Regions from separate parts of the Homo sapiens genome. Here regions 1, 2 and 4 are each linked to region 3. Evidence: fine-mapped expression QTL. A gene starts in region 3. Each other region holds a variant in brackets. All regions are shown on one strand. Distances are between the middles of the regions.

Evidence for each region. PIP is the estimated chance that this variant, and not a neighbour inherited with it, causes the effect.
Region 1: its variant is fine-mapped to the expression of LTA4H in whole blood (INTERVAL, PIP above 0.99).
Region 2: its variant is fine-mapped to the expression of LTA4H in whole blood (INTERVAL, PIP above 0.99).
Region 4: its variant is fine-mapped to the expression of LTA4H in whole blood (INTERVAL, PIP 0.95).

What each region holds. Positions count from the first base shown.
Region 1 is chr12:96,054,461-96,057,148 of GRCh38, forward strand. No RefSeq gene overlaps it. Among named protein-coding and RNA genes, the nearest start is that of TRD-GTC2-8, 20 kb to the left of the region's middle. The variant A/G (reference allele first, on the strand shown) is at 1,258.
Region 2 is chr12:96,013,982-96,016,669 of GRCh38, forward strand. It overlaps LTA4H (leukotriene A4 hydrolase), which reads right to left. Exons shown (of 19, transcript NM_000895.3): 11 at 1,602-1,713; 12 at 874-1,018. Among named protein-coding and RNA genes, the nearest start is that of HAL, 19 kb to the left of the region's middle. The variant T/A (reference allele first, on the strand shown) is at 1,217.
Region 3 is chr12:96,034,216-96,036,903 of GRCh38, forward strand. It overlaps LTA4H (leukotriene A4 hydrolase), which reads right to left and starts at 1,372. Exons shown (of 19, transcript NM_000895.3): 1 at 1,146-1,372. The coding sequence starts at 1,304. It overlaps TRD-GTC2-8 (tRNA-Asp (anticodon GTC) 2-8), which reads left to right and starts at 1,806; the gene lies at 1,806-1,877. RefSeq lists enhancers at 471-560, 1,151-1,570, 2,011-2,060, 2,081-2,130 and a silencer at 1,001-1,100.
Region 4 is chr12:96,008,907-96,011,594 of GRCh38, forward strand. It overlaps LTA4H (leukotriene A4 hydrolase), which reads right to left. Exons shown (of 19, transcript NM_000895.3): 15 at 188-242. It overlaps LOC102723340 (a long non-coding RNA gene), which reads left to right. Exons shown (of 4, transcript XR_945237.4): 4 at 1,055-2,688. Among named protein-coding and RNA genes, the nearest start is that of HAL, 14 kb to the left of the region's middle. RefSeq lists enhancers at 1,506-1,675, 2,308-2,477. The variant C/T (reference allele first, on the strand shown) is at 1,210.

The sequences.
Region 1 (2,688 bases), 20 kb after region 3:
TGCTATAATAAGTCTGCAAGATTAGACCTTAGGCAACAAAAGCCGGAAGGAGAAACTACATTTCCTATAAAATGTGGAACTGTGGGATAACAGTGTAACAACACTATGACTACAAACAGGGAAATTTATATATGAGAAGGAACTGGATTGTATGTTACCTATATAAATGATCATGAGAAAGTCATGTTGTTCTTTTGTTGTGATCTTTTAAACCAAATTTATAGTGCATTGAACCAAGTAATTGTAGGCCATTATTTTAAAGTAGGTTGTAGCACAGCATGAATTAATAATCACACCAATTTTATTTTACTTCATTGGATTTATTTAGCAATTGTTTTTAGCACTTCCTATATCCCAGGCCCTCTTCTACGCACTTTAAATGTATTAACACATTTCAATTAATCCTGGCAACAGCCTGAGAGGTAGGTACTATTACTATTCCCATTTTACAGATGGTGAACTGAAGCATGGTGCAATTAAGTAAGCAGCCAAGATTCAACCGGAATTCAAACCAAGCAATCAGGCTCCACAACCTGCCTTTTTAATCTGGCTCTCTGCCTTGTGCAAAAAGATGGTGAGTTAGTCCGTTCTCGCACTGCTATAAAGAAATATCTGCTGGGCGCGGTGGCTCACGCCTGTAATCCCAACACTTTGGGAGGCCGAGGCGGGTGGATCATGAGGTCAGGAATTCAAGGCCAGCCTGGCCAAGATGGTGAAACCCGTCTCTACTAAAAATACAAAAATTAGCCAGGTGTAGTGGCAGGCATCTGTAATCCTACCTACTTGGGAGGCTGAGGCAGAGAATTGCTTGAACCCGGGAGGCAGAGGTGGCAGTGAGCCGAGATTGCGCCACTGCACTCCAGCCTGGGTGACAGAGCAAGACTCCATCTCAAAAAAAAAAAAAAAGAAGAAGAAGCCAGGCACGGTGACTCATACCTGTAATCCCAGGACTTTGGGAGGCCGAGGCGTGTGGATCACGAGGTCAGGAGTTCAAGACCAGCCTGGCTTATGGTGAAACCCCATCTCTACTAAAAATACAAAAATTAGCTGGGTGTGGTGGCAGGCGCCTGTAATCCCAGCTACTCGGGAGGCTGAGGCAGAAGAATCACTTGAACCCAGGAGGCGGAGGTTGCAGTGAGCCGAGATCGCACCACTGTACTCCAGTCTGGGTGACAGAGCAAGACTCTATCTCAAAAAAAAAAAAAAAAAAAAAAAAAACCCTGAGAGTGGGTAATTTACAAAGAAAGGAGATTGGCC[A/G]GGCGCGGTGGCTCATGCCTGTAATTCCAGCACTTTGGGAGGCCGAGGCGGGTGGATCACGAGGTCAGGAGATGGAGACCATCCTGGCTAAAATGGTGAAACCCCGTCTCTACTAAAAAAAAATACAAAAAATTACCCGGGTGTGGTGGCGGTTGCGTGTAGTCCCAGCTACTCCGGAGGCTGAGGCAGGAAAATGGCATGAACCCGGGAGGCGGAGCTTGCAGTGAGCCAAGATTGCACCACTGCAGTCCGGCCTGGGCGAAAGAGCGGAAATCCGTCTCAAAAAAAAAAAAAAGAAAGAAAAGAAAAGAAAAGAAAGGAGGTTTAATTGGCTCATGGTTCTGCAGGCTTCACAGGAATCCTGGTGGCTTCTGCTTCTGGGGAGGCCTCAGGAAGCTTCCAATCACGGCGGAAGGCAAAGGGGGTGCGAGGTGTCTCACATAGTGGGAGCAAGAGCAAGAGAGAGCTAGAGAGGAGGTGATGTACACTTTTAAAAAACCTAATCTCACAAGCACTCACTCACTATCACGGGAACAGCACCAAAGGAACAGCACCAAGGCGATGATGCGAAACCATTCATGAGAAATCCGCCCCCATGATCCAATCACCTCCCCGCCAGGCCCCACCTCCAACACTGGGGACTACAATTCCACATGGATTTGATGGGAACACACACCCAAGCCATGTCTGATGGACACATAGTTTATTTTCTTTTGTGACTCTGCATAGGCCATTCTTGCCACTGGGACCCCTTCCCTCCCAATCCTCCTGGCTTTCCCTGCCTGTCAGCAAACTCCTGCTCCTTTTTCAAGCATCAACTCGGATTTACCCTCTGCTGTGATGTCTTCTGTGACTCACATGCAGATTTAGGCACCTGTTTATTGTGTTCTCAATATATCTTACCCATACTATAGAAATATTTGTTGTTTTTTATCTACCTAGTGTTAAATTAAATAAGCACGAGGCCATTGGCCAGAGGCCCTCTCCATATTTTGAGTTTCTGTGGAACAAACAGCAACCTAATAGTATGTAAACAAACTGAAACCTAATTTAGGAGTATATTTTTGTAACATATAGCCTGGTTTCAGCCAATCACAGAGAAGCTTCAGCCAATAATAAGCATCCAATTGATGAGACCACGCCCAATAAGGCAGATGCCTAGCTGTTGCCGATCAAGTGGTTTCTCTACATTGCTTTTGTGTTCACCCTAGAAAAGCTCATTGCTCACACTGCCAAGTGGAGTTTTCTGAACCTCTTCTGGTTCTGAGTGCTGCCTGATTCATGAATCATTCTTTGCCCAAATAAACTCTGTTAAATTTAATTTGTCTAAACTGTTTCTTTTAACACTAGCTTCTATTCCGCCTTCTCTGACAAGCGTTCAGGAACCCACCCCACCCCCACCCCGTACTTTGGGTGTAGCCCATGTGATTT
Region 2 (2,688 bases), 20 kb before region 3:
GACTTTCAGAGTGAAAGAATGTTCAAAAAAGGAGGTGGGACTTAAGTTGGGCCTTGAAGAATATATGTAATTCAGTGGAAGGGAGAAGAGAAATTCTAATTATAGGTAAGGGGATAACACATGAAGACACAGAAAAGGAATGCATAACCCAAGTTCTAAAAGCAATAACCTTCACATGACTAGAAAGGAGAAAAATAAGACTGGACAGGCAGAATGGATCCAGGTGACAGACAGCCTTCCAAGTCAATCAACCAAGGAGAACACCTCAATGTCCATCAGTGGGGGATGGGTACATAACTCAGCATAGCTTTATCATGAACTAGTATGATGGCATTAAAAAGTATGAAACAGATTTATATGTACTGACACAGAAGGGTGTATGTGAAATATCGAGCAAAACAAAACACAAATGCAGAGCCAATATATAGCATGACCCATTTTTTGTAATTAAAATAATTACATGTATTTATTTGTCTGCTTGTTAATTTACACCTAGAAAATGATCTGGAGCCATTTACACCAAACTGCTAACAGTGGTTACCCCTGGGGAGTGGAAAGGGGTTGATGGACTCTCACTTGTTACTCTTATAAACTTCTGTACCATAGAAATGTTTTCAGGGAATACACACTATTATCCTAATTTCAAAAACTGATGAGATTTTTTAAAAAATGAAGCAGCATAATTTAAACCTTAGGGGTTATTAATGGTTTTAAGTTGAGAGGTAACTCAGAAAACAATACAGATTTCTTCAGCAGCTACATCCAGAATGAATTGGAAGTATTAAATGGAACAAAACAATAGTTTACAATTCTTCCTAATTCTCACATTACCCTCAAAAAGAAAAAAAAAATCATAAAATACCAACTACTTACCTGGTCCTCCAAGCAGTTGTTCAAGGTAAAAAAGTAAAGCAAAGCCCTTCTCATAGGGAACTGAAGAATAAGCTACATCAGGGTCTATATCTGTCAGATCAACCACAAGTTTGGTGAAAGGATGTGTCTCCCCAAATGTCTTTACCTGCAAGACATGAAATAACATGGAGAAACATATAGAAAGACTGCTATCACCACGCAAATAAGCTAATAAGGAGGTATTACTTCACTCAGTGGTGTAACTTTAGGGGAATCTAAAACTTGGAGACTGGAACACTAGGATATGTTGGCATAAACTTCTGGAAGTCTATTAATAGAATGCTTACTTAAGTAATATTCTCTG[T/A]TGTTTCTTGCTCAATAATACAGGCTTTATTCTTATAAAAAGACTAGAAAAATGATTTAATGCCTGGTCAGCAAATTTGGCTTTCAGGAGACAACACTTAAAAATGACATACCAAATAAGATGCAAACATAGTAAACAGCTATATTAATAGCAAAGACCCAGTGAGGTCCCACAGCTCCCTATTTAGACCAGGTCATCAAAACTACCTTACATAGAACAGTGAACAGTGTGGATCAACACAGTGTTATACCAGCATTGACTTCACTTTCCACACTTGTAAAAATGACTTTTTGGTTGCTACACAGTAAAGACGCTTTTATAAAAACTCAGTTTTTAACACCTATACAACTTTGGATGAAGGTTTTTAAAACTTTGACTCCTTTACCGAATTCTGTAGTTCTCCCCATCCTCCCAGAGCATTAAAATGTCTGAACTTTTCACCAAACAATCGTCCGCAAATGTGGCGTTCCAAGTACACAGTATGTCCCTCATTTAACCTGAAAAAAAAATATTTTAATAAAAACACGGACACAGCTGAGAAGAAAAGACATTTCAATCAAGATATTTTCTTTTTGGCTTTTCTACAGAGGAAAGCAGTTGTAAGGCATGACCACTACAGTCTAAGCCGACTCTGGCTCCCAGGCAGTCAATCCAGAGCAATGGGAAGCCCAGCCCAGCAGATGGCAGCAGGGAAAGTTAAGCCCTGCTTCTGCTCTTGCATGTCCCTATGTTAAAAGTGGGAGTATATCAGGAATTAAACTTAACACCTAGACTGAACCTAACACTCCTAACGCTGTAATAAGTGTTACAGAATTTTTAAGAACTATCCTTGTTGGCCGGGCATGGTGGCCCACGCCTGTAATCCTAGCACTTTGGGAGGCCGAGGCGGGAGAATTATCTGAGGTCAGGAGTTCAAGACCAGCCTGGCCAACATGGTGAAACCCCGTCTCTACTAAAAATACAAAAATGAGCTGAGCATGGTGGCGTGCACCTGTAGTCCCAGATACTCGGGAGGCTAAGGCACAAGAATTGCTTGAACTGAGAGGCAGAGAGATCACACTACTGCACACCAGCCTGGGCGACAGAGTGAGACTCCATCTCAAAAAAAAAAAAAAAAAAAAAATCCTTGTTGGCTGGGCGTGGCGGCTTATGCCTATAATCTCAGCACTTTGGGAGGCCGAGGTGGGCGGATCACTTGAGCTCAGGAGTTTGAGACCAGTCTGGGCGACATGGTGAAATCCCATCTCTATAAAAAATACAAAAATTAGCCAGGCATAGTGGCATGCGCCTTTAGTCTCAGCCACTTTGGAGGCTGAGGAGGGAGGATTGCAACCCTGGAGTTGCAGTTAGCAGAGATTGCACCACTGCACTACAGCCTGGGCCACAGAGTGAGACCTTGTCTCCAATTAAAAAAAAAAAATAGCTGGGCATGGTGGCTCACACCTGTAATCCTAGCACTTTGGGAGGCCAAG
Region 3 (2,688 bases):
AAAATACACATGTAGCATCCTGCCCTGGTGAAGAAGCCGAATTTGGCTGTCTTTTCATGACCCTCTTATTTTTAAAATGATCTTCTATGAAATTCTTCAGGTGAAAGGTACCTTCAGATGAAAGGTATAAACCAAATACTATTGGGCAATTTGAGCAAGAACATTAAATATAGGTTATGATACAGATAAAATCATTGAATAATATTCCATGAATCTACAACCTTTCTTCATTCCAATGGTTATAGAGTTTGTAGAAGTATGTGTTTTCTAAGTGAAATAACTACTTGGCTCCTTGGAACCAACTATTAAAAAAGCGTATTGAATCATCCTTAGAAAATTTGAACGTCCCATCCGTTCTTAAATTATTAGAAGAAAGTTGATAAGATTAAAAAGTAGAAAGGACCCTGAAGAGAGAGAGCTGCGCCTAGAGTTAGCAAGCAGGGACTGTTAGTTTCAAAGTAGGGCGGAAAGAAGAGGCCTGCCCGGCCGGGGCTGGAAATCCTAAGAGGCTTGAGAACGACTAGCAGGGAGATCCAGGGAACTAGGAGGGAGACGGATGGGTGGTGCCCTGCAGACCTGTGGATTGAAATAAGTGTTCCCGGGAGGCAACCGTGGGATCAGGGATCGACAGGACATGGGATCTGAGACTTGGGTGAGATTGTTGACTGAGGAAGGTGCCCAGGGGGCTGGGAAAAGTCTGGGGCCTGAAGAAGGGGGTTCTGGGCCGCAGGCCGAAGCAATGGGGAGGCCATGGAGTAATTAGAGCCAGGAACTAAAATTATGGGGGCTACTGCAAAGATGACACCTAAGGGCTGGGTGAGTTGAGAGGAGTGGACGAGGCGCTGGATGTGCCCAGGGACCTCGGAGAGAGGATCCAGGCGAGGGGCGGAGGAGACATACGTATAAGTGGGGGCTGAGGGAAGGGATGCAGAGGCGTAAGCGGGGTTGAGAAGGGGTGCTGTGAGAGATCTGGGGGCTGAAGTGCACAACATGAGTTGGATGGAGGCTACAGAAGAGCAGACGGGGACGTGGGGCTAGGCAGGGGCCGCGGCGGGGTGAGCCGGAGATCCGGGAGCCCGCAAGGACTAGGGTCGAGGGGCAGGGAGCCCGGGAGAGGCGGGCACTGGGCAGGCGCCCCACTGTACCAGGCTGCGCAGATTGTCCTCCTGAGACTGGACCGTGAGAGCAGCAGTCCCGGTCAGCGTCCGGCGAGTAAAGTCGACGCTGCAGCGCAGGTGCAGGTGCTTGGTCCGGCAGACGGAAGCCGGAGAGGCCAACGAACAGGTATCCACTATCTCGGGCATGGCTCTGGGGGATCACACAGCACAGCGACCTACAGCCCAACGCTCAGCTACCAGACTCGTCGATAGAGAACCTGAGGAGGAGGGAGAGAGGTAAAGAAGAGGAGGAGGGATTCGCGGTGCACGCCGGGAAAGGAAGTTTCTTAAAGTCAGACGAGCGTTGGGGGATGGGTGAAGGAACTACAAGTTCCATGGTGCCGCGCGGCAAGCGGGCGCTTGGCTACCTGGGAGCGTGTGTGTTAGGGATGTTGAGGGGGACCAAGCGTGCTCCTGGAGCTGAAGAAGAGGAGGGGAGTAGGGGCAGTTAGAAGGGTGGCCGAAGGGAAATGATGAGAATGGAGGGGGAGATAAAACTGAACACTACCATTTTGGCTCTGTTCAACTTTCGTGGAAGCTGTGGTGGCAAACGTAAGAAAATCAGGTTCATTGGTGTTTGCATATAGCGAGGGCGGGGCGGAGCAAAAACGTAGAAAAGGCCTATCAGAAGGCTTTCTTTCGTGCGGTTCCTCGTTAGTATAGTGGTGAGTATCCCCGCCTGTCACGCGGGAGACCGGGGTTCGATTCCCCGACGGGGAGGCACAGTAATTGTTTTTTGTTTTTAGCTGTAAGTAATTCAAGGTTTAAACAGTTGTTTTGTCAGTTTCAGTGTTTATTATGTATATCCCCAGAACCTGCATCTCTCAAACGGAGAAAGCCAACATTCCCATCTTAGAAACTAATGAATTTCTATAAAAGTTATGCACTGGTCGCAATGGGAGTACAGAGCTGGGACATCTAGCTCAGCTCTGGGGCCTTTGTGGCAGGTGAAGGAGGATTGAAGGATGCCTTGCCTTTAGGGTGGGGCCTCAAAATTAAAACTGGAAAAATTGGAAGAGGCTAGGTTTCGAAGGACCTTAAATAGGTGGCCTTTTAATCCTGGGTGCATTAATGGGGGACCCACTGAAGAGTTTTCAGCAGGCGACTGATAAAGCATGGTCAGACTCATGTTATAAAATGCGGTATCAAAACCATTAGCAGGAGATTTAGGAAACTATTAAAATGGCTCAATCAGAAGATGCTGGGGGCCTGACATAGGTAAGTAGTAAGTTAGGATAGAGAGGAAGGAATGAATAGAAGGAATACTTATATAAGTGGATTCACAGATTGAGAGGAGACGAAGGTGGCCCAGGCTTTCGGCTTCAGTGGCTGGCTAGTCATTAACCAGAGGTAGTAGTCTATATGAAGAGGACAGTATGTTAGGCTGTACTTGCATTGCTATAAATACCTGAGACTGGGAAGAAAAGGGGTTTAATTGGTTTACAGTTACGCAGGCTGTACAGGAAGCATAGCTCCAGTATGCTTCCAGGTAGGCCTCAGGAAGCTTACAATCATGGCAGAAGGTGAAGAA
Region 4 (2,688 bases), 25 kb before region 3:
AGACCCTGTCTCAAACCCTTAATTTTCTATATTGAGAGTAGATATAATATCACCTTAGATAAACCTGACTTTCAAATAGCCTTTCCAAATATAACTGTTTGTGATTTAAAGTACCCTCCCTGCTTCATGAGTAAAGACATATTTGCACAATTCAAAAAGGAATCAAAAATCACACATTATTACTTACAGTAATCCATCTTTGACTTAAGGCAATACAAGCATTTGTCAGAGTCATATCATAACTGCAAAGATAAAGATTACATTGTTTAAAAATGCACGTGCTTTTGCAGAAATGCAGTTTTAAAGCTACAGTACATACTTAAATTTCAAAGTCCCTTTTAAATAAGGAAAACAAACTCCAAAGTGAGGAAAATAGGAAATATTTTACCTAACTTACATACTACTGGCATCATCCAAGAACTCACAAACCCAAATGGATACCACATTAATGAAACACCCATCTATCTTTTAGAAAGAATGCCAAAGCACCTCAGCAAAAGACTGTCATGTGCTCGAGTAGTATATGCTAAAGTAGTTGGAATCAGTTGAGCATATTTAGTACATGGCAGGAACAGTTCTAGGCACTCAAGACAACAAGATGAACAACATCAAGTCCTTGCTGTCATGGATTTTACTTGGTTGTTCCAAACATCTAATCATCTAACAAACCTGCAAGCACCTGCTACATAATTGGCACCGTTCTAGATGCTAGACCCTTGAGAGAGCCCGATACCATTGCCTGATGATTTCATTCCTTTTTAGAAGAAAATGAAATTAACACATGGTAATTGTTAAGCAAATTATACCAATATTTGTGTGTTCTCAACTTAGAAATCATATTTTGCAACAATGGGAAAGAACATGTAGTGTGTGCAAAATTCTTGCAAAACATCCCTCTTTCTCCGTAAATCATGCTTGCTTGTACTGAAATGCTTGTATTAGGGAACAGAGAGGCACCTGCCCCTTAGAGCCTAAATGAAGTAAGTTTTGATTAGAAGTTACCACTGAATCTCCCTTAAAGAGAGTTGTGACTGGGACTCCGTTTGTTCCCTAGGGGAGACAATAAAAAGGTCAACACAGCTCCCACCTCGAAGCAGCTGCCAGTTTATTACATGAAGTGTCAGGCTGTGGACTGCAGGCATGCCATTTTGTCTTCAAGAACAGGTGGGATCAGAGGTCCTTGACTGATCAGAATACACTGCTTTCAAC[C/T]AAAACATTATTAGCATTGATTTCTTAAAAAATAATAGCAAAGTAGAAAACCTTTAGCTGGTCTGTTTCTTCGTGTCCTGAAACTTCCTTATTAGTGTAATTAAAAGTACTAAGTTAAGAATTAGCCTGGGAAAGGACCCTACTTATGGCAAAGTCTTCAGAAAAGTAAAGAGCAAAACCAGATATGTGCCTTGTTCTCATGGTGCTGACAGTATAGCGAAGAGGAAATACTTTAATCATACGAATAAATAAATGTAAAGTTAGAACTGTGCAACTGCTACGAAGAGAGGATATAGCACTAAAAAGCCCTAGAATGGGAGATTTGACCTGGCCAGGGATGTCAAGAAATGCTTCCAAGAGGAAGTGGTTCTTGAGCTGAGATTGGAATTAACTGGGCAAAGGGCTCCGGGTAGAGAAAACAGCATGCTCAGGTACTATGTTGGAGGACATATGGGGAGTTCGAGAAACTCCAAAACTGCCAGTGTGACTGAAGCAAAGGGAGCTAGAGTGTTAGGAGCTTATAATCCCCACTAAAGGATTTTGTCTTAGCCCAAGAGCAAAGAGATACCAGTGGAGACTGCTAAGCAGGAGGACAACATGACACATTTGTGCTTTTAAAGGTTTACTCTAGCTTTAGTGTGGAGAGTGGCTGGGAGAAGTCAGAACAGATACAAGTGCACAGTTTGGGTGCCAGAACAGTCTTCCAGGATGTGAAGATGTGATACTGAACTTGGACAGTGGTAGTAGAAATGGAGAGATGTGGATAGACTCAGATATTTAAATACATATACAAATGATGAGAGCATTATAAAAAGAGGATCGTGGAAGCCAAGATTCTGTGCTGCAATGGATCAAAGTATTTTCTGTGGTTTGAGATTTTCTAAGATACTCTCTCTTTACAGAATTCCCGGGCACACGAATGATTCCAGGGTTCCTCCAGCACTTTGGTATTACTTGAAAGCAATCTTAAGGGATCTAGAATGAACCAACGCCCAAAAAGGATCCCTTAGCAGCGGTGATATCAAAGAAACACTTTTGAAGAACTAATTTTCCACCCAGATTTCCCCAATTTTAAAAGCAATGGGCAAAGCCTTCTCCACTCCTAAACTTCCTGGAACTGTCTTTTGGCTATATCAGGCCCCTGAAGTTAGAGTCTTTGAAAGACTCCAAACTCCAAATTCTATGCTTTTATTCTCAGGCTCCTCATAATTCTACAGCACACCAGACTGCTGACCACTCTCCGTACCACTTTTAAATTATTTCTTCCCACAGCTTTCTTAACAATGAACCTTTGAAATCTTTTTAGTTTTCCATTTATTTTGCTACCTTTCCTCTGTCCTAGCTCTAAAATGAAGATCCTCTAAGGTTCTACAGTTTACTTCTTGTATTCTCCTTTGTAAGTCATCTCCAAGACGATGTCCAAATCCATCACCATTAAAATTAATAGTTTCCTCACCCACAACACTTAATATTTTAAAA